4 linked regions of the Homo sapiens genome follow. The protein of the gene in region 3 purifies or fractionates together with the protein of the main gene of each other region. This does not show direct contact. Each region holds a gene or a part of one and is shown on either strand. Other genes may lie near its edges.

What was found.
Region 1: the proteins of DIPK1A (region 3) and POMT2 purify together in Homo sapiens (co-immunoprecipitation; 2 studies listed by BioGRID and IntAct, with this or other methods). This does not show direct contact.
Region 2: the proteins of DIPK1A (region 3) and LRRC8A purify together in Homo sapiens (co-immunoprecipitation; 2 studies listed by BioGRID and IntAct, with this or other methods). This does not show direct contact.
Region 4: the proteins of DIPK1A (region 3) and CACNA2D1 purify together in Homo sapiens (co-immunoprecipitation; 2 studies listed by BioGRID and IntAct, with this or other methods). This does not show direct contact.

What each region holds. Positions count from the first base shown.
Region 1 is NC_000014.9:77,296,760-77,304,043, forward strand, and holds part of POMT2 (protein O-mannosyl-transferase 2), read right to left. Parts: intron 6,185-7,284; coding exon 6,076-6,184; intron 4,491-6,075; coding exon 4,331-4,490; intron 2,803-4,330; coding exon 2,696-2,802; intron 2,013-2,695; coding exon 1,930-2,012; intron 1-1,929. UniProt on the Homo sapiens protein: Transfers mannosyl residues to the hydroxyl group of serine or threonine residues. Coexpression of both POMT1 and POMT2 is necessary for enzyme activity, expression of either POMT1 or POMT2 alone is insufficient.
Region 2 is NC_000009.12:128,906,133-128,913,416, reverse strand, and holds part of LRRC8A (volume-regulated anion channel subunit LRRC8A), read right to left. Parts: intron 6,261-7,284; 5' UTR 6,253-6,260; coding exon 4,096-6,252; exon of another isoform or gene 3,477-4,095; intron 3,374-3,476; exon of another isoform or gene 1-3,373. UniProt on the Homo sapiens protein: Essential component of the volume-regulated anion channel (VRAC, also named VSOAC channel), an anion channel required to maintain a constant cell volume in response to extracellular or intracellular osmotic changes.
Region 3 is NC_000001.11:92,846,327-92,853,610, forward strand, and holds part of DIPK1A (divergent protein kinase domain 1A), read right to left. Parts: intron 4,630-7,284; coding exon 4,522-4,629; intron 1,034-4,521; coding exon 857-1,033; intron 1-856.
Region 4 is NC_000007.14:81,957,630-81,964,913, reverse strand, and holds part of CACNA2D1 (voltage-dependent calcium channel subunit alpha-2/delta-1 isoform 1 preproprotein), read left to right. Parts: intron 1-554; coding exon 555-707; intron 708-805; coding exon 806-858; intron 859-2,418; coding exon 2,419-2,474; intron 2,475-2,890; coding exon 2,891-3,020; intron 3,021-5,084; coding exon 5,085-5,194; intron 5,195-5,556; coding exon 5,557-5,639; intron 5,640-7,284. UniProt on the Homo sapiens protein: The alpha-2/delta subunit of voltage-dependent calcium channels regulates calcium current density and activation/inactivation kinetics of the calcium channel. Plays an important role in excitation-contraction coupling.

The sequences.
Region 1 (7,284 bases), on a different chromosome or scaffold from region 3:
CACAGAAAACCACTTCTCAAGAGCATCCCCTGCTCCTATAGGCCCTGAGTTATTGAGAAACCTTTTTTCCTTAATACTGTCCTTCTTCCAATCCGCTGGAATGACCTGCTCCTGTTTTTCTTTGTTCATTCAGTGGACCAGAAGAATTACACACTGGATCCAAAGGTGGAGGAGGCCTGCCTGTGGCCCTGGAAGAGCCCTGTCTACAAGGAAGATGGCTTCACACACTGACAAGTATAGGACAGTGGGCAAGTGCCCCACAAAGGCGTGACAATGTGTGACATGGTGGGAATGGTGGGAACTCGGAACAGGCCAAATTCTCTCCCAAGGATTAAAGAGAGGACGACTTGATCGAAGAGGTGACAGCTGAACTAGGCCTTTAAATAATGAGCAGGAATTTGCTAAACTCCACAGCTGTGTTCTTCTGAGTTCTCAGGCAGGCCAACCTCGGCAGCCCTGCACATGGCTGACCACCTTTATTTCTTGAAATGCTCTCTGTTCCCACTTCTCGACCGCACACTCTCTCAAGGGCTGCTCCTCCGCAGTCTCCTCTCCTAATTCCTCCTCCTCTTGCATTCCCCAGTGATCTGACCTCAGCTCTATTCTTTTCCTCTTTCTACAGTTTCCTTACAAATCACAGCTACTGCCACAGCATCAATTACCGTTTTACTTGTCTGATTCCTCCTTTGAAAGCATCAGCCCCAAATCCCACTGGCCCCATGGCAACAATTTCCCCAAGCAGCTCACTATCAACCCCTCTCGCGTGGAATTCAGTATCTGCCCTTCCAACCCAACTTCTTCTCCTGCTTCCCTATTTCTCATTCTTCCCAGTCTGGGAGAGTCCGCTGTATTTTAGGCACTGTGCAAAGTCCTGGAAAGACTAAAATGAGTAAGATGCAGTCTCTGCCTCCAGGAAGCAATCACCTGCACTCAAGTCCTTAGTGACATCTTTCTTCCTCTCTTGCTGTGTCCAGATCTCCCTTGTATATGCCCATTTGCCTTACCCTGTGGCTGCCCCACCATACCCAGCTCAGGTTCCTGCAATAGCTTCCCAGAGGGTTTCTCTTGCCTACAATCCTGTCCCCTCCCCAGCCAGCCTCGACTCTCCCACCCATGTCATCTCCCTATAGCACAGCCTTCCTGGCCTCCTGGCTGCTCAAAGACCTCCACTAGGTCTCCACGGCCTGTTTTAGGAAGTCAAATACCTCATCCAGACACCTCAAACCCTCATAGTCTGGGCCCAACCTAACTTTTCACATTTATCTTCCAGTAGTTTTCTGCATATACCTGTGCCTCAAGTTTTACTCTGTCCTCAGCTTTGATCATGTCATCCCTCCTGCCTGAGATGCCCTCTCCTCTGTTGAAAGCCACACATTCTTCCAGGGCCTGACTCCAAGGCAACCCACATCACGAACCTCTGATGCCCTTAACCGCCCAGCAGCCATGCTCCTTCACGCCTGTCAATCCCCAGAGCTGTGCTCCCTCTTTACGTACTTAACGCTTCCAGCCACACCGTGTGGAGCTCCTCTACACCAGGCTCCATCTCTGGAGGGTGAGCACGCGCTCCACTACCATCTGTCATAGATGAACGAATGCAACACTCAGAAAGCGGTGCGGGAAACCAAAAACTGGCTCTGAAGGGCCTGGTGCTGTCACCATATTCTCTCTGAGTGACCTTCCCACAGAGCTGGCTTGGAGAGCCACCAAGGAGAAGTCATTCTTTAGGGTCAGAGAGCTTGCTGCTCAGGATGTCTTCCTCTCCTCTGTCCTGATTCACTCTCGAGTATTTTCACCAGATCTATCTGGGTCTTTCTCCCACCGTGCCATCACAGGCTAAAATAACCCAAAGCCATCATATTTGTCTTTTCCAATTCAACTCCCAGGACACCCCTCTGCCTTCTACCTTTGTAATGGCCCAGAGACACTCACGTTCAGGGATGGAAGCATTGTGCAGGTTGTTCCCTGAAAGCCGGGCCTGGAAGGCAGAACTGAAGAAACCGTCACCAGGGCCACTGTGGGGAGAGGAAGAGCAGAAGAGAGTCAAGTTAAAGGAGTGAAAGTGTGATTTCCCAGGAGCGCTGGGAAGAGCTCTGCTCAGATAGTTTAAGGAAAGTAGAATCAGATCATGGGACAGAGGTGGGTGATGGAGTTGGAGAAACTGGGGTCCAAATCCCAACTCAGCCACTTACTAGCTGTGCGACCTTGGGCAAGATAACCTTGTTTAGCCTTAGTTCCTCATTTATAAACTAGAGATTTAAAGAAACCAAGAGAAGTCACAAGTGATTCTGATTAAATGAGATAATGTGTACAAAATGCGGAACACAGTTCCTGATTCTCAGTAGCTACTCATTAAGTGGGAGCTGTTGCCGCCGGAGTTACTGTTATTGTTACACTCACTCCTACTGCACATCTTATTGTGGCCTATCCTTGCTAAGTACAGGGGACTCTGTTTAGAGATAAGGGACAATTTGGCTATAACGAAAATAGCTTCTTCCTTCAGGTTAGGGTGCTGGCCTTTCTGAGCCCTTAGCATATACCCAAAGGATAGAACATAGCAGGAAAGAAACAGGAAAAAGCCCCTGGGGTCCCTCACCTATCATTTTAACCACAGACCCAGAAAATCATCCGACCCCTCCACAGGCTTAGGAGCAAAAGGAAAACCAGAAGCAAGATGCTGCAAAGGCTCTGTCTGTACCTTTTACTCAGCACCATGAAGTGAACAGCAAAGGTGGCTGTATAGAGAGCCAGGGGCAGCACTATGAGGCACAGGACACGAGCAGTCAGGTGTTTTCCCACAGTCACCTGCAAACAGAGGCCAGCGTGGGGTGCTAGGCATGTGAGACCTCATTATTCCTTAGGCACTATGCATGCATTATATATAGCTTTTAATATATCAGTCATAATCATAAAAAATGGCCAAGAGGAGAGAGAAGAATATGTGGAAACCCTAAGCCTTTCTGTAACACCCACCACCCAAGCACTACACAAGATAAACATGGGCCAGCCCTCTGCTACCTCTCCAGGCTCTACACCCAAAACCCCAGGATGTTACTGTGCCAAGGACAAGGCACCTGCATCTGCAACACAGTTGCTCACCAGTCCGCTCCATGTTCCAGGTACACTAACCTCCTTGAACTTTCCCAGTGCTTCCTCTACTGTCCCAGCCCAACCCATCACATGGCTAATGGCTCCTTATCTTAACTTCGCGGCTTCCTTCCAGAGGCCTTCCTGGATTGCCTGGGACTGGCCGAGTGCCCTTTTCTGTGCTCTCCCAGCACTCCTGGCTGACTGTAACTGCCTGCTTCCTTATTTCTCTCTCTCCATTGACCACAGAGGGTGGGGACCATATTATATTCATCTGTATATTCCAGCACCTCACACACAGTGGCTGGATGATCTTTACACATTTTCTGAATAAATGAATGAATGAATGAATAAACTTGTTAGGAGCTGGTTTGGAGGTGATGGAGCAGCACCACAGCAGAGTGATGGCCTGGGGCCAACCTAACCTGGTTGTGACTCCTAGATACACCTCTCACTCCCCGATGGCCTCGGGGAAGTCATTACCTCTGTAGGTTTTGATTTCCTCATTTGAAAATCAGGGTAATAACTCCCTACCTCATAGGACTATTATGAGGGGTAAATGAGATAATGAAGGTAAAGCGTTTCGCATAGTGCCTGGCATAGAATCAGCCCTTAATAAATAATAAACTGTAAAGGCCCTTACTGGCCTCCAAATATGGAGACCGTGGGTCAGGAAATGAAAATTGTGAGTTCAGACCGGGCTCGGTGGCTCATGCCTGTAATCCCCGCACTTTGGGAGGCCAAGGCGGGCGGATCACTTGAGGTCAGGGGTTTGAGAACAATCTGGCCAACATGGTAGAACCGCATCTCTACTAAAACTACAAAAATTAGCTGGGCATGGTGGTATGTGCCTGTAATCCCAGCTACTTGGGAGGCTGAGGCAAAAGAATCACTCGTACCCAGGAGGCGGAAGTTGCAGTGAGCCAAGATCGGCCCACTGCACTCCAGCCTGGGTAACAGAGTGAAACTCTATCTCAAAAAAAAAAAAAAGACAGACATTATAAAACAAATGCAAAAAGAGACTTCCAAGAATGTTAATCTATCCTCTCCCTTGAACCCTATCCAGTCCTCAGCCGGGCCCACTCCCTGATGTCCTGCTGTCTGCGGAGGTTGGGGGGTCCAGCCCACCTGGGACCCAGAACACAGCCACTCTGCCACCTGCAGTAGAGACAGAGAAGGCCACCAGCTCCTACTCAGCAACATCAGGGAGCAAAAACATTTCCACAGCAAACCCTTGGGTGCTCACCAATGAAAGACTGAGGTCTCCGAACAGGTACCAAAGGTCTGCAATGGTGTTCAGCCCCACTTGAAGGATGATAAAGAGGCCAACAAACTTGACCCCTAAAGCACCAGCAAGACTAACGCCAGTCAGGCTGAGCCAGAACCACCAGGGGGCAGAGAAGGGCCTGAAAATCAACAAGACGGAGTTCAATTTGGCAGCTGGAACCAAAGCCAAACGCAAGCGCAGCAGGGGACAGGGCAGTTCTCAGACTTGGAGCGGCTGTGCTGTGCCCTGTCTTGGGGGCTCTTAGCCTCAAGGGACCATGGCGTGGCTCCATGGAGGAGGCGGCCTGTGAAACCCCTGGAACGGCAGGAAAAGCACTGTCTGAGGGCGCAGGGTATTCTTCAGGGGAGAGTGTCCATAGTGCTCCTGGCTAAGTACAGGGCTCAGGGTAAGTGGGGGCTCCTTCTTCACAAGTGACCAGTCAGGCAGGAGTAAAAGGAGAATCCTTAGGTGCCCCTGGACTCAGGCAGCCCTCTCCTTTGTGTCACCTCTGCCCTTGTCGAAGGCAGCATTTACCGAGTGCTTACTATGTATGCGTCACGCATCATTCCAAGTACGATGCATATATTAACTCTTCTAGCCGTCACTACAGCACACAGAGGATCCTGTCACTAGGTCCTCTTTTTGCACAGGAGGAAATCAAGATACAGAGAGGTGGAGTAATACAGCTAGCAGGCAGTGGGGCACAGTTTTAACCCAGGCAATTGGGTCAATGTTAGTGCTCTTAACCATTTTGCTATTCGTATAGCACCTAGTACTCTACACTATGATTCTCTGGCTCTCTGGCTGCCTCCTCTGCCAGAGTGAATATTCCTTAACAGCCAAGCCCAACAGAGCTCAGTACCTCCAGCTCCCCGCATAGTACCTGGTACACAGTATGTACTCAAGAAATGGTAGATGGAAGTGGATGTGGCATAAGCACAACAACCAAAGCCAGAGTGGGCTGAGAGTCACTGATCAGGTTTGATTAGCACAATGGAGCTTAATGAGCCTGGCTGTGCAAAGTTAACTTCCAGAAAAGCCTACGAGGGGCCAACTCTTCTGGTTTGAATAGAATGAATGACTTATTCTACTTTCTCAGAAGTAGAAGGATGATCTGGAAAAGACTATTCTGCAAGTAGACCGGACCCTCCAAGTCAGCTTTAGAACTGACCAGGACCTGGAAGGATCCTCTTGGCTGGTATGGACCATTCAAGCCAACCTTTACATATGCTATTCCCATCATTAGGTCAGGACTGGATGCAACCACTGACGAAAGGGAGATAGTTTCCAGGCAGCATCTACCCTGGTGCCCTCCCTTCTAGGACAGAGTATGTGAAGGACAGCCCTGTCCCGGGATTTCCTAACCAGCACTGGTTACAAGAGGTGGGTGGGGAAAGTATTAGGACCCCCCATGATATCCCAAAACCCCTACCCAATTGTACTCCATTGTAAACATGATAATAATAATACGCTTGAAAAAGACAACTGACATTTTCTCGGTCTTGAATATGGCAAAAATAAAATCACCTGTAGAAAACTTTTTAAAATCTATTTTTATGATCTAAAATGGACAATCTAAGTTAAAAAAACAAACAAAAAGTATGCTTGCCTTAAAATCAGCTTCAAGACAAGTCTCTGGGCACCCGCCCTGGCCCTGGCCATTACAGAAATTTTGGAGTTGCCACAGCTTCCAACCCTCCCCTCCCGGGGATGGAGTTTCTGACCTGTCGGCGCAAGAGTTGTACTTGACCATGCTCAGCATGGCAGCCATGATGAAGAACATCAGGATGGGGTCAAGGAGGATGTACTGGGACAGAGTGAGGCATCCCGTGTCTGAAAAACATGAGCTCGCTGGTGAAAAAGCGAGGTAAGAGAAGGGCCCCCTGAAAACCAAGCACCCCAGTAGTAGGAAACAGTCCCTCTTGCCACTTAATTGAGTGTAAGCACTTGTGCAGTCAGGACTAGAGTCAACACTGAGTCATCAGGGAGGTAGAAGGCCACAGCTCTGGGAGACATCAAAGCCCAATGACAAGAAGCAGTAACTCACACTGCCTCTAGGCCCTCAACCCAAGAGAGGATCATGTCATTCGCTCCCTCAGACCAGCCCTGAGACAAGGTGTCATCCTCATTTCCACCATCAAAAAGGGAGTCCTACCACTCTGCTCATGTAACCGCAAACTATCTACACCTATGATAGAATCTTATCATTTTACATGAAGTCTCTCTTGGGGGTCGATTCTCCAGACAGATGGCAGAGTGATGTTTTTTAATTTAAATCCTTAAATCTCATTATGTCATGCCCCTGCTTAAACCCTCCAATGTCTTCCAACCTCACTCAAAGTAAAAAGTTCTCATGACAACTGCCAGAGTCTGTGCGGTCTCCCTACCCATCTAACCTCATCTCCCAACACCCTCTGCCTCACTCACTCTGCCCTTTCCACGCCAGCCTTCTTACTGTGATTTGAACCCACAGAGGTCCACACCAGAACTACAGTACATGCACTTCCCTCTGCCTGAATGCTCTTCCCTCAGATCCCTGCAGGGCCTGATCCTTTGTCTCACTCAGGTCTCTGCTCAAAGCTCCCCTCTCAGAAGCTCTTTCCTGACTATCCTGTCTAAAATAGTACTGATCTCCATTATTCCATCCCTTACACTGCTTTATTTTCTACACTGCACTTGTGGCTTAGGACATCACATGACAGACTTATTCATTTACTTGTTTATTTACTGTCTGCCCCACGATGAGGTAAGCTCAATGAGACCAGAGTGACTCATCAGTGTATCCTCTCAGACTAAGAAAAGTGGCCGGGAGCTGGGTAGGTGCTTGAGAAATAACTATTGAATGAAAAGTACATAAATGACTAAATGAATGAATAACTGAAGATGGAAATTCAAGATACAAGGAAAAAGCCACCAGTCCTCTATAGAGAAAG
Region 2 (7,284 bases), on a different chromosome or scaffold from region 3:
GCACCCTCTCCTACCTCCCCAGAGACTTCAGTGGGTCCCCATCGGCACTGAAAGGCCTCAACTCGACCTGATCTTTGAAAAGGACAACTCTCTCAGGAGGCTTCCAGGGCCCCAGCGTTGTCCTTGGCTCTCTGGCCTTCCTGACCAACTGCAGGAAAGCCGCTGTCTCTCTCCTCACTCTGCCTCCATGACCCTGTCCACCCTTAACTCTCTGGCCAAAGTCACCAGTTCCTAATCCAGCCAACTCCCCAGGCCCCATGTGCCCCACGCTCTGGCCTCGCCCTCCTCTTCTGCAGACTCCTGTCCTTCTCCCTCTCTGCTCTCCACAGTGAGCAAGTCAAGGACCCATCTTCACCCATGAGCCTGGAAAGGGTGACTCCTTGGGCTTCAGGTGGATTCAAGATGGTCCCTTGGACATCCCAGAGCCCCAGACACCTGACATGAGACACACCTTGGCCTCTGAAAACCTGTGCTTCCTCCAGTCTCAACAATCCACAAAAAAAAGCTCAAGTCACTCAGACCACCCCCACCATCAACTCCCGTCCCTTTGAATTCCCCCTCCAGCGTCTCCCAGATCCGTCCATGTCTCTCCATCCCTACCTGCCTTGGCCACGCCAGGCCCCGTGGCCTCACCTGATGGCTAATCGTGGTCTCTTAACAGCTCTCTTCCACCTCCCACCTCTCACTCACCCCACCCCACACACTACCGCAAGAGGAACCTCACGCTGCAAGTCAGCTCATTCCTTCACCCACTCAATCACTAGGAATTCGGTAAACACTTGCTTGAACAAAAGAGCTAGGTCTTAGTCATCAGAGCCTATGGGCTGGCAAGGGATCGGCTGTTAAACAAATGAAGAGACAATTGAAACTGAGGTGTAGGACAGGACCCCCCTGCCATCCACACCCCCCCCCATAGCCCCACCTCTGCTCTCCAGGATGCCCACATTCCTGGGCAGCCCATCTCACTGCTCCTCCCCACCAGAACCTCCTGGACTGTCCCTTTCCCCTCCACCTGGCTTCCTCCTCCTCGTTCTTCAGGGGCCTGTTCCTCTGTGTTCCCAGGGACCTGGTGCTCCAGCAGAGCGCCTACGCACTGTGCTAACTGCCTCGTTACTTGGCCTTCTTCATCCCCATGTCCCCGGCGCCTTGCTCCATAGCTGGATTCTAGAAGTGCTCAAAAAACATCTGCACAAAGGCCAGGCGAAGTGGCTCATGCCTGTAATACCAGCACTTTGGGCGGCCAAGGTGGGAGGCTTTGAGGCCAGGAGTTTAAAGACCAGCCTAGAAAACACAGTGAGACCCTGTCTCTACCAAAAAAACAAACAAACAAAACATAACAATTTGCACACATCAGTAAACGAGTGAACGAATGAATACTGTCTTGTCAAGGCTTTCATTAGCAAGAGTATAAATCTGGAGAAACAGCACGCAAGGGCGTGGGCAGGCCACGCCCACCCCTCCTGGTCACCACTGGCCAAGGTGGCTGAGAAGGAGCCATCAAGCCCGAGTGAGGAGGAAGAGGGGCTCAGGCCTCCCACTCAGAATGAGGGGCCTGCCTGGGGTTGGCCCAAGTGAACTGTTTTCCCTATTAAGGCTCTGGTGTTCCAGGGGGTGGGGACAGGATGTGATTAAGCCATGTGCTAAACAGGGTGTCCAGAGGGTCTCCTTCCTCTGGGACAGCGTGCTTGCCGCCAGCTCCTTTCCTGAGGGGTGACCTCAGCCAGCAGGCATGACACTAACAGGCAAGCTTGGCGGGAGGAGCTGGGGGTGGGGGACAGGATGGGGAGCCAGGCTGGAGGCTTGAACCCTCCCCCAACCAGGAGGACAGCCCCAGCACAGCACCCGGGACAGGGCAGGAATGGCAGGAGCTGTGAGGAAGTCCCAGCTTATCAAGGGCAGCACTGTGCTATGGGGAAGCCACAGGGTCTCCCCCTCCACAGATTAAAGAAGGGCTGGGTTTGTTCTGTGCTTCCCAAATGTGGCTTCTCCCCAGGGGACTCCAGTTTTCCTATTCAGTGGGCCTGTCCCGAAACTACAAGAGAAAACCCTGCCCTGGTCCACTCTCCCACTGTGCTCAAGTCATAATATGGGGTGGCCGGAGATAAGGACTTGTCAAAATCCCTGATACATGTGGGTTGCAGGTTGCTCTGCAGTAAGGGAGCCCTGGGGAAGAGGGGAGGAAGGCTTCCAAGCCAGCAGGCATCTGGAGGGCCTGAAGCATCTAGTCTGAGTGATGCTGGAGAAGGTGTGTCCTGTCCTGGGGCCCAGGAGGACAGACAGGGCATTCCAGGGGCCACCTCCCTCCGTGCCTGAGGATACTATAGACAGACCGGGCATTCCAGGGGCCACCTCCCTCCGTGCCTGAGGATGCTATAGACAGACCCTGTTGGGAGGACTCAGCAGGTTGGTGGAAGGAGGACAGGTGCATCATGCCTGGCACAGGGCGAACACAGAGCAGGTGCCCACGAAACCAACAGGGACTGCACCGTGGGGCTGCTGCATGGCAGATGCACCCAACAGCAACAACCGAACTAAGAAACGCGGGTTGCCACACGGAGGCTGCAGAGGGGAGGGTGCTTAGTGAAAATGCTCTATGAGCTGCACGCTTTTTATAAGCAGGAGTGGTTTTCCTATTTGGCTCACTGCTGCTGGACCACCCTGTAAGTAAGTTCCCCCAAATAAACCCCATGTTTCAATGGCCGGCTCCAGGGCTCTTCATTTTACTTTGAGACTGGGTCTCACTCTATTGCCCAGGCTGAAGTACAGTGGTACAACCATAGCTCACTGCAGTCTTGAACTCCTAGGCTGAAGCGATCCTGCCTCAGCCTCCCAAATAGCTGGGACTACAGGCACATGCCACCATGCCTGGATCATTTCTGTATTTTTGGTAGAGATGGGGTTTCCCTATGTTGCCCAGGCTGGTCTCGAACTCCTGAGCTCAAGTGACCGCCCCACCTTGGCTTCCCTAAGTGCTCGGATTACAGGTTTGACCCACTGGGCCTGGTCAACTCCGAGTCTCTTCTTCAGCCTCCTGAACCTGGTGGCATCCCTAGTGAAGTTCACAGGGGCCCGGCACGACAGCTGCTGCTGTGTCGGGGGCAGAAGGGTGGCTGGCTGGGCTCTCCCTTGTCTCCCAGCGCCTGGCCTCAGGCTTCCTCCACCACATGTCTCACTACAGGAATCTCCACCTGGATGTGAGGCCCAGGAAAACCTGCAGGTCCCCAGGACGGGTGGAAGAGGGACGTTCCCCACAATGGCAGTGGCTTTGTTTCCATTTCGGAGGCCAGACCACAGAGCCACAGGAGTACCCAGCCCTCCATCCACACTGCCTGCCTCCACCAAGGGGCCCTTGGATGGGGGCTTCCCCAGCCAGGTAAGAGACTGGCACCCACAGACCACCAACAGTCTTGAAAGTATGTCGAAGGTGTGGCCTCCCAAACTCCCAGTGACAATGATTTGCACAATTTCCTTTTCAGAAGGGCAGGCAGAAACAAACTAGCCCCATCTAGGCCCAACTCTGCCTCTGACACCACCAAATGCAGTGGAGAAAGGTGTGTGGGAGCTGCAGAGACCATCCAAGGCTTCCCCTCAGCCAGCACTGGCCACCCACACAGTTTCTGTCCTGGGTGGACCCGGATTGGCTCCTTGCCTCCAAGTCCGACTGGGAACAAGCTGAGGAAGACACAAACTCCAGGCTAAGTCTTGACTCCCACCACCCGGCTTTGCGAGAGAACCCCCGGGTTTGGACCTCCTGCCCAAGCACATCCCTGCTGAAGAGGAACCCGGCTCAAGGTCACCTTGGGGGACAGACCTTGCCTGGCCATGCAGTCTCTCCAGGCAGGAGAACTGCAACATTTTGGAGCAAAGACAGGCCCGGGGCCCAGAGATTCGGATTCAGCAGGCCTGGGATGGGGCCCAAGGAGTCTGTCTCTTGAACAGAGCTTCTATCCTGGATGGTTCTGTAAACCCCAGGTGAGGACTCCACACTCAGGGGCATCGACGGTCCCAGGACACTGAGCCTGCCGAGTGCCCCACCACAAGCCCTGGCCAGGCCACCCGCCAGCCCACACGCAGAGCTGTGGCCGGGCCACTCACCCGGTTGGCCGTGATGGCTAGGTTCTGGAGGTTCTGCAGGAGGCCGATGTCGGCAGGGAGGAAGGTCAGGTTGTTGTGGCTGAGGTCCAGGTAGCGCAGCTTGCGGCAGTAGAAGAGCTGGGTGGGGATCTTCTCGATCTTGTTGCGGTTCAGGTAGAGGCGCTCCAGGTTGGTGAGGTTGCCGATCTGGATGGGGATGTAGGCGATGTGGTTGTACCACAGCTTAAGGCAGGTGAGGCGGTGCAGGTGCTGGAAGCTGATGATCTCCTCGATGGTCTTGAGGTTGTTGTCCTTGAGGTCAATCTCCTGCAGGTTGTGGAGGCTGAAGATGGAGTGGGGGATGCGCTCCAGGTCACAGCGGATCAGCTCCAGCTCAGTCAGGTTCGCCATCTTCTTGAGGCTGTTGAGGACGATGAGCTTGGTGCCCTCATTGTTGATGGACAGCTTCTGCAGGTGCACGCCCACATCTGTGACCACCTGTGGCAGCTTGCTTAGGTTGCTCTTGAGCCGCAGCACCTTGAGGCGTTTGAGCTCCCGCAGCCCGTCGATGACGATGTAGCGGTTGTTCTCCGCGCTCAGGTTGCCCGTCAGGTGCAGCTCCTCCAGTGTCTTCAGGCTATAGATCCACAGCGGGATCTCCTTGATGTCGGTGAACTTGATGTGCAGCGCCCGCAGGTTCTCACGCAGGAAGGCCAGCGCGGGCGCTTCAATCTTGGCCGCTGTGTGGTAGAGCCACAGCTCCTTGAGGCCCGTGAGCTGGGCAATGCTGGGCGGGATGGTCACGTCGGGGATCAGCTCCAGCTTGAGGACCTCCAGCTCCACCAGGTCAAACACAGTGTCAGGGATGCCACTGAGCATGAACAGGTGCAGCTCCAGCTTGTCCTGCGCGTTCTTGGTGAGCCGCTGCCGGAGCTTGTCCAGCGTCCACTCGTTGTTGAGGTTCAGCTGCCGCAGCTTGTTCTCACTCACCTCCGACAGGAAGACGGCGAAGCGCTTGGAGTAGAGCGGGTCGTATTGGTCAATGAGGTGCAGCATGAAGGCGAAGTCGTTCTTGACGTCGGGGATGTCGCTGTAGCTGCTCTCCTCACGGATCGACTCAAACGAGTACTTCTTGAGGGAGCGCCGTAGCATCCACCACAGTGTATACATGCAGATGAGGCCGTAGAAGATGACTAGGCTGATGTAGAAGGACGCCAGGATCTTGAAGAGTGTGGCCAGGGGGTGGGCACAGCGGTAGGTGCGGTAGCCCGTCAGGCTCTCAATGTCCACGGTGCAGTCCACGTCGAACTTGATGTTGTGCACGTAGTAGACGGTGTAGCAGATGATGAGGATGAACTTGATCACCTTGATGATGGTCTGCCGCATGTAGAGGCGGTACACAATGTCCCCCTCCTCCACATGGGTCCGGAACTTCTTCACCTTCTCAAACAGCGCCTTGGCTTGCTCCCCCTCCTTCTTGTCCAGCACGCCCGTCTCTGAGCGGTCCACGATACCCTGCTCGATCCGTGACTTGGTCCGCTGCAGCATGGGCACGGTGGCCTCCACGTCCTCACTGACGGTCGATGACTTTTTGTCCATGGACCCATTCATCTTGCTGAAGGCCGGCTTGGGGTCGCTCTCCTCCACCACTGTCTCCGACAGGGCCCTCGTGGTCCAGGGCGAGTCGAAGCACTTCAGCAGGATAGACACAAAGTGCTCCAGCTTCGAGCTGGTGCGCGGGAATTTGAACCAGAAGTTGCTGCAGGCCAGGAAGATGAGCGTGTGCAGAAGCACCAGGTAGGGGAAGTACTTGGCAAACCAGTGCAGTCGGTTCTCATAGCACACAGCGTCCACGTAGTTGTACTGGTGCCGGTCCAGGTCATACTTGATGCCTGTGGGGCCCGTGTCAGGGGTCGGCAGAATGGTGGAGTTGGGGTAGGTGGGCTCCGGGCCAGGGGCTGCCCAGCCCCGGAACGAATCATTGCAGGAGTCCTTGGTGACCCACTTACAAGGCAGGCAGATCATCTTGTCTTGGGTGACCTGCAGCGTCCCCCCGAAGACGGCAATCATCAGCATGACGATAGAGATGTAGTCTGTGAACACATCCCACCACGGCTTCAGGATCCGGTATGCTGGCTGCGTGTCCGCAAAGTAGCGGAGCTCTGTCACCGGAATCATGGTTCAACCTAAAAGGGAGCCATAGGAGGGGGGTTAGCACAGGGTGGCCTGGCTTTCCTAGGACCAGGGGTCAGGGGAAGAAGACAATGAAAATTCTTCCATTGTCCAAAATTCCACCTCAAATCTAGCTGGGAGCCAAAGCCTGCCTACTCCACGGGGCAGCCCACTTATCAGCCCTTCTGCAGAAAGCATGTGGCCACTTGGCTGGGAAACCACCCTGGGGGAGGCAGGCAGGCTCCCCATTTAATACACAGGAAGACTGAGCACAGTGAGATTAGACAGATCCCCAGTGCAGCCTCAGGGTTCTCTGCTCCATCCCTTGCATTCCAGTAAGAGCAATCGGGAACTCCTTTCTAAAGTCCACCTATTTAATGAACAGATTGACCAGAGGGACACATTTAAAACTCCCAGTTCACTGGGAACCAGCTGCTGTAAAGCTGCAGCAAAGGGCTGGAGGGATTCCCGCAAAATATGAGGAAAGAAAGCAACATGCAGAGGGGGCACAACATGAACTCACTTCCATAAAACAAAGAGCAAGGTTTAAAAATTCCACGTGGTTCACGTCTGTAATCCCAGCACTTTGGGAGGCCGAGGTGGGTGGATCACCTGAAGTCAGAAGTTCAAGACCAGCCTGGCCAACATGGTGAAACTCGGTCTCTACTAAAAATACAAAAATTAGCCTGGCGTAGTGGCGGGTGCCTGTAATCCCAGCTATTCGGGAGGCTGAGACAGGAGAATCACTTGAACCCGGGAGGTGGAGGTTGCAGTGAGCTGAGATTGTGCCATTGCACTCCAGCCTGGGCGACAAGAGTGAAACTCCAACTCAAAAAAAAAAAAAAAAAAAAAAATTCCACATGGGGGCTGGCATGGTGGCTCACGCCTGTAATCCTAGCCTGTAATCCCAGCATTTTGGGAGGATGAAGTGGGAGGATCGCTTGAGTCCAGGAGGTTGAAGCTGCAGTGAGCTATGACCCCGTCGCTGTACTCCAGCCTGGGTGACAGAGACCCTGCTTCAACAACAAAATTCCACAT
Region 3 (7,284 bases):
AAAAATTATTAATCCCTTTACCCTATAGTGCTATAGAACACTAGAACTTATTCTGCCTATCTAGCGGTAATTTTGTATCTGTTAACCAACCTCTCCTTATTCTCCTCTCCTCTGTACCCTTCCCAGCCTCTAATAGCCACAATTCTAAGAGTATACTCATTTTATTTCACCTTTTTTGAATTAATTTTCATGTCAAACTGTACAGCACTCCAATTAATTAATGAACTCCCTCCTCATATCTGGACATTTTTAGCTATCATAAATAATGTTAAAGTAAACATTCTCCAACACAGATTTCTTTTCTTTTTCTTTTTTTTTTTGAAACAGGGTCTCACTTTGTCGTCCAGGCTGGAGTGCAGTGGTGAGATCTTGGCTCACTGCAACCTCGACCTCCCAGGCTCAAGCAATCCTCGCACCTCAGCATCTCAAGTAGTTAGGACTACAGGCACATGCCACCACTCCTGGCATATATATATATATATATATATATATATATATATATATATATATATATATGTGTGTATATATATATGTGTGTATATATATATATATATATACACACACACGTATATATATATATACGTGTATATATATATATATATAGCTGAGGTCTTACTATGTTGCCCAGGCTGGACTTGAACTCCTGGGCTCAAGTGATCCTCCTGCCTTGGCCTCCCAAAGTGCTGGGATAACAGGCGTGAGCCACCACGCCCGGCCTCTTATAATTATTTCCTCAGGATGGAGAATCTGATAGAGGTCAAAGAATATCAACACTTTAATGGCTTAGGATGAGGTCCTGCCAATTCCTCTAAAGAGTCCCACTTCACACTAGCAACATATGAATGGGTATGCTTACCTTAAAGAGACTATAGACCATTTCTTTAAATTTTTGTACAGTAGTTCCTCTAGTTGGCTTATCAAATAGCACTATTTCTTTTCTTGGTTCCAATTCAGTTCCAAAATCAAGATGAAGCGCTTGTTCCATTTGACATTTCACAACACCTGGTAGATTATCCCAAATCCCTAAATACATCTATGTAAAAAAGAGTGGCAAGTTATGTATTATACTGAGTAGAAAACTCTAAAAAATATACTACTATATTTTTAGGGTCCTCCTCCTCTGAACAAAACAAAACAAGCATCAAACATTGAGGTTAAGGTGTGACTTTATTTCTGAACTGCAAACTTGAAATCACACTCAAGATTTTTTCCTTAAACTAATTTTTTAAATTATAAGAGTAATGCATGCCTAAATATATTTTTCAAAAAGTCCAATGAGAAGGATGTAAGGCAAAAGCAAAGTTCCCAGACATTCTACTTCCATAATCCCACTTCCCCAGAATTAACTACTATTTAAGTATCTAGTTATTTATCAAACTAATATTATATAGTGTTAACTATGTCCTATGGTCTACTAATTTATTTTAGAGACAGGGTCTTGCTTTGTCACCCAGGCTGGGGTTCAGTGGCATAATCATAGCTCATTGCAGCCTCAAAGTCCTGAGCTCAAGGAATCTTCCTGCCTCAGTCTCCCAAGTAGCCAGGACTATAGGCATGTACCACTAAACCTGGCTAATTAAAAACATTTTTTGTAGAGATGGGGTCTTGCTGTATTGCTCAGGCTGGTCCTGAACTGCTAGCCTTAAGTGACCCACCTGCCTCAGCCTCTCAAGTTGCTGGGATTGTAGGTATGAGGCACCACACCTGGCTTTTACTGATTTATGTTATTATTTTAATCCTTGTACCAATCTTAGGTGGTAGGTACTATCATTATACTTATTTCACTGATGGGGAAACTGAAGCAGATACAGGTGAAGTAACATGCTGAAAAGAGCTGAGGTCTTTACCACTAGGATAGGTTGCCCCTCTTCTACATAAAAAAATAAATAAGATCATATTCATTCTTAATATTAATCCAAAGAAAACATTATTTCACTGCCTTGCTCCAAACCCTCTAATAAATTCCCCTTTCAATTAAAGTCCAAAGTCCTTTCCATGACCGGTTGGGCTCCATTTGAGCTAGCCTCGCCTATGTCTCCAACCTGATCTTGTACCACGTACTCCGTTTCTCAAAGTCCCAGCTACACTGGTCTTTCTGTGACAGGTTGAAGCTTGTTTCTGCTTCCTGACCTGCTTCACTTGCTGCTGGCTCTGCCTGGAATGTACTCTCCCAGATCTTCACATGGCTGGCTCCTTTACATCATTCAAGTCTCAGATTAGACATTGCATTTAGAAAGCCTTCCCTGACCCCCTGTCTAGAAGAGATCCTCTTCCACCCCCAGGTCACCTCTAACCCTGTTTCATTATCCTCATAGCCTTTTGCACTGTCTAAAATTATCATATTTATTTATTTATCAGTTCATTACTATCTGTCTCATCTCACATTAGAACATGAGGCCAGAGGCTTTATCTGTCTCCCTCAGTGCCTCAAACAGTGCCTGGCATGCAGGAGACACTCAAATGTTGGACTTTGTTTTAGAAATTGTCTTTAACATGATTAATACTGTCAACTGAAAAATTAGTTTAAATTTCTATAATAATAATGCATATTTATATAGGAAAATTTAGGAACCATAAGATGAACATTAAAATGCAATTTTCCACTGCTCCAGATGTTTCGTTGTATTTTCTTCTACCCCAATTAGATATTCTACTGTTTTATTCTTATTTCTCTGATGAAAAGTAAGGTAGAATTTTTTTTCATTATGTTCATCAGCTGTTTGCAGTTCTTTTGTGATTTAGTTCATCCTGTCCTTTTCCCATGCCTATGAATTTTTTATTAAGGTATAAGTTCAAATATTATTTCAGAAAGGTCTTCTCTGATCACATCCTCTAAAGCACTTCTCACCATCCCTTACACTGCATTCTCTATCAATTTGCCCTCTGTGTCTCCTACAGAACACACCATATTCTACAATTATTTTGTTTGTTTATTTATTTATTTATCAACTGTTTGTACCTCCTGTCCCTCTGGAATCATGTAAGGTCTGTAAGGGAAGCAATCTTGTCTGGTTTTTTTTTGTTTTTTTTTTTTTTTTTGAGACAGGGTGTCACTCTGTCACCCAGGCTGGAGTGCAGTGACATGAACACGGCTCACTGCAGCCCTGACCTCCTGGGCTCAAGTGATTGTCCCACCTCAGCCTCCCGAGTAGCTGGGACCATAGGTGTGTGCCACCACACCCAGCTAATACATATATATTTTTTGAGACAGTCTCGCTCTATTGTCCAGGCTGGAGTGCAGTGATGTGAGATCTTGGCTCACTGGAACCTCCGCCTCCCAGGTTCAAGCGATTCTTGTGCCTCAGCCTCTGGAGTTGCTGGGATTACAGGCATGTGCCACCACACCCGGCTAATTTTTTGTGTTTTTAGTAGAGAGGGGGTATCGCAATGTTGCTCAGGTTGGTCTTGAATGCCTGGCCTCAAGTGACCTACCGCCTCAGCCTCCCAAAGTGCTGGGATTACAGGTGTATGCCACTGTGCCTGGCCACCCAGCTAATTTTTGTATTTTTTGTAGAGACAGGGTTTTGCTATGTTGCTCAGGTAGGCCTCAAACTCCTGGACTAAAGCAATCCACCCACCTTGGCCTCCTGAAGTGCTGGGATTACAGGCCCGTGCCACGGGCCCGGCTGTTTGTATTTTTTTATTTTTATTTTTTATTTTTTGAGACACTCACTCACTCTGTCACCCAGGCTGGAGTGCAGTGGTGGGACCATAGCTCACTGCAGCCTCAACCTCCTGGGCTCAAGCAATCTTCCCACTTCAGCCTCCTGAGTAGCTAGAACCACAGGTGTGTGCCACCACACCTGGCATTTTTTTTAAATTTTGGAGAGACAGGGTCTCACTACATTGCCCAGGCTGGTCTCAGACTCCTGGGCGCAAGTGGTCCTCCCATCTCAGCCTCCCAAAGTGTTGGGATTACATGCGTGAGCCACCGCACCAGGTTGCCTTAATCACCATTGTATTCCTGGTAACTGAAACAGCATCTAACATCAAAGTGCTGACAGAAAAAAAAAAACAAAACAAAACAGTGTCTGGAATATACTGGGGATAGATTAATAAATATCTTTTGACTGGCCAGGTGTGGTGGCTGACATCTATAATCCCAGCACTTTGGAAGGCCAAGGCGGGTGGATTGCTTGAGCTCAGGAGTTCGAGACCAGCCTGGGCAACATGGCGGGACTCTGTTTCTACAAAAATACAAAAAATTAGCCAAGTGTGGTTGTGTGAGCCTGTAGTCCCAGCTACATGGGAGGCTGAGGTGGGAGGCTCACTTGAGCCTGGGAAGTGGAGGTTGCAGTGAGCAGAGATCTCACCACTGTACTCCAGCCTGGACAACAGATCCTGTCTCAAAAAATTAAAATAAAATAAATGTCTGTTTAATGAATGAATCAAAGCATACAAAATTGAAATACATATAATGTCTCAAAGCTTTGGTTCAAGAATTCTTTTAATAATGCCTTTAATTTCTGGTAAAATTAGAGTACACTATAATTCTGGAATGTTTATTCATAATGGCCATACCTGATTGTTGGGCTTGGTGGATAAACATTTTCCAAAGTAAAGAGTTTCTGTAACACAAAGGCTGTTACATGCAGGCCCATCAATAACTCCAGTCTTGTACTTGTCACACTAAAAACCAGGAAATAAAAAAGTAGTTAATAGAAAAATATTCACAAGAAGAAGCATAAAGAGATATCTATATCCTTTATGAGTAAGTTCTATGACAAAAAGAACTGAGGCTTTGGACTTAGACAGACCTGGATTTGATCTAAGCTCTGTTACTTATACCTATATGATTATGAGAAAGCTTGTTGCTGCTGGGGTGTGCGTAGAATTTTGAAACTATTTTTCCCACATGACATGGTCTAAGGTGGTATGTTACCTACTCCTTCCAAGAATAGAGGCACTCTATCTTTAAAAATGGTTCCGGTTTTAGGCCAGGCACCGTGGCTCACGCTTGTAATCCCAGCACTTTGGGAGGCCGAGGCTGGTGGATCATTTGAGGTCAGGAGTTCGAGACCAGCCTGGCTAACATGGTGAAACCCCATCTCTACTAAAATAAAAAAATGAGCCAGGCGTGGTGGCGGGCGCCTGTAATGCCAGCTACTCGGGAGGCTGAGGCAGAAGAATCACTTGAGCCTGGGAGGCAGAGGTTGTGGTGAGCCGAGATCATGCCACTGCACTCCAGCCTGGGTGAGAGAGTGAGACCCTATCTCAAAAAAAAAAAAAAAAAAAACTTCTGGTTTTAAAATAAATAAAGTTTAGAATAACAAAATAAAGTTACCTCTGTCACATTGTCATCCTTGAGATCACCCAAAAACAAGAAAGGGAAAAAAACCCATCCACTCTCTGAAAAAATATGGTACCAATGAAACCCTAGGCACAATAAATGAGGATGACCTGCCAAATTCAGTGAAGATTACACCAGAGCCTACAAGTATGCTGAGATTAAACACCTGCTGTGGTCCCCACTCTCAGACAAAGTTGGCAGAGCACCAAGTAGGTGGTACATCTGCAGAGCACAACCATTATCCTGGTTGCAACAAAGATTTAAGGGGCACAAGCTGTGGGAACTTCCCAGAACTCTATTTGGCACCATGAAATAGTAAGATAAGACAGGCCTGAATGATAAAATGCTCAGAAATGTTCTCTTTGCTGGAGGCAGTCTGTTGATGAACTACGGTTGGGAGAGAGGGCCAGAAGCAGCTTCACTACCAGCTCAGTTCACTGCCCAGTTGCTTCCCGCACATGGCTGGCTGAAGGAGACCTCATTTCACTCAGTAATGAGTAATAATCAAAACCAAACAAGCAAAAGATCTATACAGCAAATCTACAAGAATTAGGAAGAATGGAATAGGAAAAGCAAATGTCAGATAAAAAAAATTTTCTAGGCAGGGTGCAGTGGCTCACGCCTATAATCCCAGCACTTTGGGGGGCCGAGGCAGGTGGATCACCTGAGGTCAGGAGTTCGAGACGAGCCTGACAAACATGGAGAAACCCCGCCTCTACTAAAAATACAAAATTAGCTGGGCGTGGTGGCGCATGCCTGTAATCTCAAGTATTCAGGAGGCTGCGGTGGAAGAGTCGCTTGAACCCTGCGGGGGCGGAGGTTGCAGTGAGCCGAGATCACACCATTGCACTCCAGCCTGGGCAAGAAGAGCGAATCTCCGTCTCAAAAAAAAAGAAAAAAATTTCTAGAAGAATGTTGCTATGAAACAGACCAAACATATTGTTATGAATTTAAAGGACTTACTGAACCAGTTTAAAATAAGACTTCAAAGCAGAAGAAATGATGAGGCAATAGAAGGAAGTTTAAAATAAGCTAACAGAACTCAGACAGGAAGGAAAATAAAACATCTAGAAATAAAAGCCACATTATAAATGAGGGGAAAGACAGACAGGGATAAAACACAGTAAGATTTAGGAGGACTAGGCCAGGCGTGGTGGCTCATCCCTGTAATAACAGCACTTTGGGAGGCTGGGCAGGCAGATCGCTTGAGCTCAGGAGTTCAAGAGCAGCCTGGGCAATACAGCAAGACCCCATCTCTACAAATAATACAAAAGAATTAGCTGGGTTTGGGGGCACATATATGTAGTACTAGCTACTTGGGAGGCTGAGGTAGGAGGATCGCTTTAGCCTGGGAGGCAGAGGTTGCAGTGAGCCAAGATCACACGACTGTACTCCAGCCTGGGTGACAGAGTGAGACCCTGTCTTAAACAAACAAAAACAATAACAACAACAAAAAACTTTGGAGGACAAGGTTGAGAAATGCAAGCAAAATGAAATGGAAATTTAAAAATAATAAAATGAATTTAAGATAAATGTATAGATAAAAAAGACAAAGTATATCCACCATGTCCATATGAAGGAGAATGGGAACTGAAGGAGAATGGGAACAAGTGGAAAAGAAAAAATATTCAAAGTAGAATTCAAGGGAAACTTCACATAAATTAAAACACTTTAATCTATAGATTGAAAGGACATACAATGAATGTCCCAAGAAAAACTGACAAGAATGACCCCTGTGACATATCCCACTGAGGTTCACTGGACTTCAAAAATAAGTTATCCTTTGAGCATCCAGGCAAAAAGATCAAGGCACCTTTAAGGGGAAACCAATCAGATTGGCCCCAGATTTCTCCATAGCCACATTCAATAGTAGACAACAGTGGTGCAATGCCAGCGGAGGCTTTGGGGAAGGAAGTGAGACTCGCCTGTGTCCTAATAGTCTCATCTGTGAAGGGGATGTTAATAGGTCTTAATTTACAGCATCCTTATGAGGA
Region 4 (7,284 bases), on a different chromosome or scaffold from region 3:
GTTTAAGGTGTACAAAAAAAAGCTTTGATTTGCATAGTTAAGTGATTACTGCGTCAAGCCAATTAACATATCCATCATCTCAGGTTGTTAACCTTTTTTGCGGTATGGTAAGAAGACTTAAAATCTACTCTCATCAAATTTCTGGTAGACAACACAGTATTATTAACTACAGTCCTCTGTTGTATGTTGAATCTCTAGGCTTATGCATTCTACATAACTGCTTCTTTGTACCCTTCCACTTATACCTCTCCATTCCCCGGCCCTGTTTTATTCATCTGGGAAGCATTTGATTGTGATTTAATGCTTAGTAATGTGTGTCCATTCTTTCCACAAATAAAATATCACACAGCCCCACTGAGTAATGAGAACACTTACTCTCATTTTAGTTTGTTCACAGTGTCATATACACGTTTCTCATTTGCTTTTGTTTTTAAGCTCCTCAGTTGTAGTTCAGTTTCTTTGTATTATTTCTTTTCACTGTAGTGGTGATTCCCGTGTTCATTTTTGGCTTACATTTTAAGTGCACGTTGCTTTATGATTTTTTTCTTCACCAGATTGGAAGATTTTTTGGAGAGATTGATCCCAGCTTGATGAGACACCTGGTTAATATATCAGTTTATGCTTTTAACAAATCTTATGATTATCAGTCAGTATGTGAGCCCGGTGCTGCACCAAAACAAGGAGCAGGACATCGCTCAGCATATGTGGTCAGTAATATCCACGGTCTAATCAATTCTCAAGGGGTACTCAAGTGTCCTCAGTATCAAGTAGACTACTGAAATGACCTTATTATTTTATTTTATAGCCATCAGTAGCAGACATATTACAAATTGGCTGGTGGGCCACTGCTGCTGCCTGGTAAGTCAAAATTTTAGTTTTATTGGTAATGAAAGAAAGAAGTTGTAAAATAAAAAAGCATCTGATGAAAATATGGATTTAGGGGATATTCAAATTTTTATTAAGGGAGTTAAGTTGTTTTCATTCTTTACATCACCTATTGGTAATATTTATAGTTTTTCCTAAGTGAACACTATAAAGTTACCATTATTCAGTTTCTCATATGAAAACAATGTTATGCGGATGTAAACTTCAGCCTCTTTAGAGTCTTCCTTCCTCTACATATCTATTGAAACTCTTTTCATTTGTATTAAATATTTATAAAAACATTACACTAATTTCTTTTAGGTGTATTGATCTGTAAGAAGTTACAATTTGTCTTTAATATCCCAGTTGGATGTCTACATGCATCAAATTCATGGCATGATGGCAACCTTCTACCTCTTTACTATTGATACAAGGACTAGTATTGTTTTAGGGGCATCAGGTTGCCGACATGGATCTAATTATTTCTTTTCACTGATGCTACCTTCCAAACCTCCCTCAACCCTCACCTGTAGACCCTACAACCTATGAAAATAAGACATTTAAATGGTCAATTGTGGCACTGTGGAAGGTCTGGAAGATCACATTTCTCATTGTTTAGTTGTAACTAAACCTCCTGTTACGTCTGGAATCCATGATCTCCCTCTTCCCTCTCTCCCTTCTAATCTTTTTTTTTGTATCATCACACTGTATTGTTAGCCCTATTCCATGTAGATTAATGTACAATATTCATTTGATGTTGAGGTTTGCCCAGCTAAAATTAAGTGACTATATCATTAAAGCAGCAAAAAAGATTTTAAAATTTTGAGAGTTTTTAAAAGATTTAGAAAATTCTGTTTTATTCTGAAAAATGGTATTTTCTGATGTGATTTTATATATTAATTTCAGTAGGCTTTTAAAATTTCATCATGACCCTGAAATACTTGGCTTTATCCTATATCCCCTCCCACCCCCACTTTTTTTTAAACTAAATTCAGTTCTAGAAATTTGGCTCAGTTGTCAGTTACTGTAAAACTGAAATGTGCTGTATCTCTCTAATATGTATATTTTGTTTCATGAAAGTTACATTACATATTTACAAATATATTCTATATTACAAAGTAAATAGTTAACAAATTCAAACCCATGGTATAAACAGCATTGTTTCTTTGTTGGGGGCGGGGGAAACCCAAAAAACAAATGGTTTTAAAAACTAAAATAAGGAGACGTAATGAATGTGAAAACCTACGCGCTGAAACAGACATTCTCCCTCTTAGAGTGAACTCTTCTGCTTGATAACATTGCCTGTTAGGTTTCTTCACACATTGTGTCCCACTTGATCCTGAACAAGATCTGAACACTTCTGATTTCATGACTTCTTTTACACATTACAAAAAGGTTACAATGTGTTATATAATTTTGAAAATACTTAAATAAAAACACTCCAAGACTTTCTTTCCCAAAAAGATAAAGGGAAACAGTATTTATGTGTATGGGTACATGTAAAAACACATTTTTTCCCTAGATGTTTATTTTTTTTTTATTTGAAAAATTCAGGTCTATTCTACAGCAGTTTCTCTTGAGTTTGACCTTTCCACGACTCCTTGAGGCAGGTATGTAAATGCTCAGACCTTGTCATTGCCATAACAATAAAAATTTTCTTTTGGGATGTGCTTGAAGTTCAACAAATTCAGAGAATATTTGTGTGAAAGAGAAAACAGGTCACCCATCTCATAATTTTAGAGCTAGAAACTTTTTGTCCAACCTTTCCTAATGTTTTAGAAATTACCTAGGTCACACGGGCCTGATCTCATAGCCATCTTGTATTTGAATTCATTTATTCTCTTGATATTTATCAGGCATCTATTACGGGCTGCCACGATATTACACAGCAGTAAACAAGCCAGTCGAGGGGTCCTGGTCTTATACGTTTATTTTGCTCTGTGAGAAGTGAAGACTCGAGGGGAGTGACTACAGAGACCCCTCCTAATGGTGTTCTTTGTTTTTACACCGTCCCCCGCCACCCAAGTTGAGATGGAGGATGATGACTTCACGGCCTCCCTGTCCAAGCAGAGCTGCATTACTGAACAAACCCAGTATTTCTTCGATAACGACAGTAAATCATTCAGTGGTGTATTAGACTGTGGAAACTGTTCCAGGTAATTTATTTATTTCAGGAGTAGTCCTATTTCATTAAGAAATTGTATATACTGTTATAATCATTAAGAAATTGTATATACTGTTATAATCATTACAGAAAAAACTGAAAATTGTGTTGGAGTCAGAGATGTGAGTAATTGTTTTAAGCTGAAAATGTCAGCAATCTTTAGTTTCTCTGTAGACTTTTAAAATTTGTAATTTTTAAAATTCTAACTTTGATAAGCTGTTATTTCTTCAACTATAATAATTACATGATCAAGATAATTCCTTTCTCTTTAGGCAGAACATAGAGAAATTTGATTATATTTTAACTTTTTTTCCTAAAATAACCCATATTAAAAATTTCTAATATAAAGTTATTAAATATATTAGTAATTTAAATAATTCTAAGCCAAATATTATTTATTTTTCTATATAGTAACTAAACAGATTTACAAAAAAAAAGTCTTGTTTTGTTTTGTTTTTACTTCTAGTCTTCTCTGACTTGAAGAACTGAATGTTATCTTTATTTGAATTTGAAGGAACTGGGAAAAATACAGTTTTTTTAGGTCATGGTTAATGTTAGTCAGTATCCATAAAATATCTTTTAAAAAGAGATGGAGAATTTAATTTTGTTGTAATGAGGGTAGAGGAGAAAGGCAAGATGGGGATTTTGAGGGGAAAGTAATAATTAATGCCACAGGATTCCTGAGAGGAGAGCAGCAAGTCACAGCTTACAAAGCACAGAGTAGAGACACTTTGTTTTTAGAGGTGGAGGGAAGATTATTCTAGAAGAAATGTTACCATAGCGGAAGAAGAAATAGGAGGAGGTGAGGTAATCTGAGATTATGAAAGTGCCAGAATAGTTAAAAAAAAAAATTTTGCAAGAGGGGCTAAGCAACCTATCATGAATTTTTAGGAGACGTGGTCAGTATGTTTTATGACTTTCTTTAGCAGACCTCTATCTCCAAGGAGGAGGTAGAGTATATAAAGAGGAGAGGAAAGGGAAGGAAGAGTCAAGCATGAACTCAGAAAAAAAGCAGACTGTCTTGTTTAGAGGAGATTAGCATATCAGGCTATGGACTTCAGGAAATGGGATTGTGGCATGTTTATTGGATACATCAGAGTTTCACAGACATTGGCCTTTTATTAATTGACATCCAGCAAGAGCAATTGGTGTGCTTAAAGAAGTAAGTTAAATTGTAAAGTGAAGAAGGTCAGTATAACCAAGATGTTAAATTGCATCATACTTTCCTTTTGATTTGCTTTATGGAAATCAAAGCTTAACAGGGCAAAAAGAAAATCCCACTTTTCTGCAAAATGTATAATGATAAAGAAATTACTTTTTTAGTGATATATTTACATTTTTTATGTTGGTTACTAAAGTAAGAGCAGCTTAAGGTGTGGACAAAACAGGGGATGGAATTCAAAACCCTTGATTCTGTCCATGTCTGTGTTGCCCAGTGCAGTAGTTACCACCTATAGGTGGCTATTGAAATTTCAATTACAGTTAAATTAATTAGAATTAAAATTTTGTGCCTCAGTCACACTTGTCACATTTTAAGTGCCCAATACCCTCGAGTGGCTAGTATTTACCATATTGGACAGTGCGAACAACTTTTCCATCTTCACAGAAAGTTTGCTTAATAGCACTGTTCCAGACTTTTCTCTGCCCTTAGGTTGGGCAAGATGCCTAGACATTTTTGTATTCCCTGTTGTGTTATCTGTAAAATAAGGCAACTTTGGCATAAGCATCACAATTCTTTGTATGTGTAAAGAAAAACTTTTTTCTATGTACATCAACAACTAAATTGTGCTTATTTTGCAATGAGGATTAATACTTTAAAATGGTCACACATAAAACATATATTGCAATTTTTTTATTCATTTGACATAGGTAATACGTTCATGCTAATAAATGAAGCATTTTTTTCTTCTAAAATCATACTCCTATTGTGCTGGGAATGGTTTCTGTTTCAGATGTCATATTTTGTCTTTCATTTTAATATGTAAGAATCTTTGAAAGATTTCCATTTATTTTGGAAAAGATACTCATTTTCTATGATACCATATTTATTTTGCAGAATCTTTCATGGAGAAAAGCTTATGAACACCAACTTAATATTCATAATGGTTGAGAGCAAAGGGACATGTCCATGTGACACACGACTGCTCATACAAGCGGAGCAGACTTGTATCCTTTGACATCAGAGCTATCTGGAAAGGAAAACCATCTTAATGCATTTTGAATCTTGTCACATTGTTTATATTCATAAAGAGAAAACTATTAGACTGCTCTGATCACCTCGCAAAGGCAGAATCGATTCCTCACTCAAAATTTGGTTGGAATGTCAAGAATAATTATGCTACACATGCCCCAGAAAAGGATAATTCACAATTTAGTTCTTTAAATCCCTATGTACTTGAATTGTGTTGGATGAGAGTAATGATGTATAAGTTATCTCTCTCACATGTTTTGGGAAATACATTGCATTGTATTTATTTTTAATCATGTGAAAAAAACTAACATGAGATTCCTTAACAAGTCTCTTTTAGCTGACGGTCCAAATCCTTGTGACATGGTTAAGCAACCCAGATACCGAAAAGGGCCTGATGTCTGCTTTGATAACAATGTCTTGGTAAGATCACACTTCTACTGGATTAAAATACTATAAATTAATGGTCACTGTCCGCAAGAATTCAAGGATACAAATTGCAATTTTAACTCAAACGTAATGTCTTAACCATAGTTTTTCTCATTAACATGACATACTTGCTGGTAGATTTTTTTCATTTCAGTAGTTTTCATGGTTAGCATAAACTTGACAGTTGCTTCTTTTATATGTCCTTCCCACAGAAATTGTGCTTTCAAACACAATTCCAATCAATTTAACTCATAGTAAATGTTAATTATGGTATATTTGTTGCCTCCATTTATATTCCAATCCTGAAGATATAAAAGTTAATTTTATTATATTTTTGTTAGTTATATTTGTCTTCAGTGAATTGAAAAACCTGTTATACAGCCATTGTCTTATTATTACAGAGTTCTAGTGTGAATTGAAAAACCTGTTATACAGCCATTGTCTTATTATTACAGAGTTCTAGTTTCTTTTGGATGGTTTCTGATGCTATCACATATTAGACTTCTATTATTTCCTTTAATTGTACTAATTTCTTTTTCTAGTGTTTGAAACTAGACCAGGTCAATTACATAGGGTTTGATAAAATATTACAAATCATATTTAATATATGTCACTTAAAGATGGCTTACTACTTTTCCTATAGTTCAGCTATCTTTCTCTAATAAATACTATTCTGATTTACTGTGTATTGATTATATACAAGGTAGGTAATATGTCATCAGTATGTACTACATTAGCTTTATGCTTTTAAAATTCTTAAGAAATATTAATCTATTCTCAAAGATGAAGTCTACATAAAAATCTCTGTCTACCTCTTTTTAACTAATTTTAAATACAATACTTCCTAATTCTGATTCTTCAGTGTGTGCACACACCAATGAATATCCAAACTTGTAAAGCATTATCTCATAAATTATTTGAGTTATTTAGTTTACCTACTCAAATACATAGCTGCATTTGTCCCAGAAAGGACAAAACATTTTCACAGATAATATTATGCAATTAGATAATATAAATTAAAAATAGCACAAAGAAGTAATAAAATCAGTAATGGGGACTAAAAATGAAAGATGTATTAGCCAGTCAATCCCAGTTATCTCTGTGAGGGATTATTGATCCTTGCTAGGGAGAGTAATTCAACATTGCAACTAAGCGTTTTTTTTTTCTTTTTAAGATATATTAAGTCCAGATAGGCGGACTCCTGTTATTCTGTCTACTGCAACTTCAGCACGTTGCCCATGTAAAATTATTCCCCCAAAGAATGTTTTATGAAGGGCCAAGGGTCATGTCACTCATTAGAGAAACTTCGCTCATCAACTATTTGTCACCAGTTTTTTGACACTAGAAATATTAAATTCAGATGAACTTGAAAAGTGACTTAAAAGCCTATTGCCCAAAATATTATTCTAGGAGGCTATATCTTATGATCAAGCCATTAAAAGGATTTGACCAAGACAAAAATGTTCAGCAATTGAAGCTCCTATAAATGGGTTGTGTGTGAAAGTACAACTGTTGCTCAGTAGCTTGGTGTGCTAATAATATCTTGTGTTTCTTTAGCAGTGGAGTTATTTTGGTAATGCTTATTTGCAATGGTCACTGTGAATCTGCTCTGGATGGAGACTCACGTTAACTGCCAGCA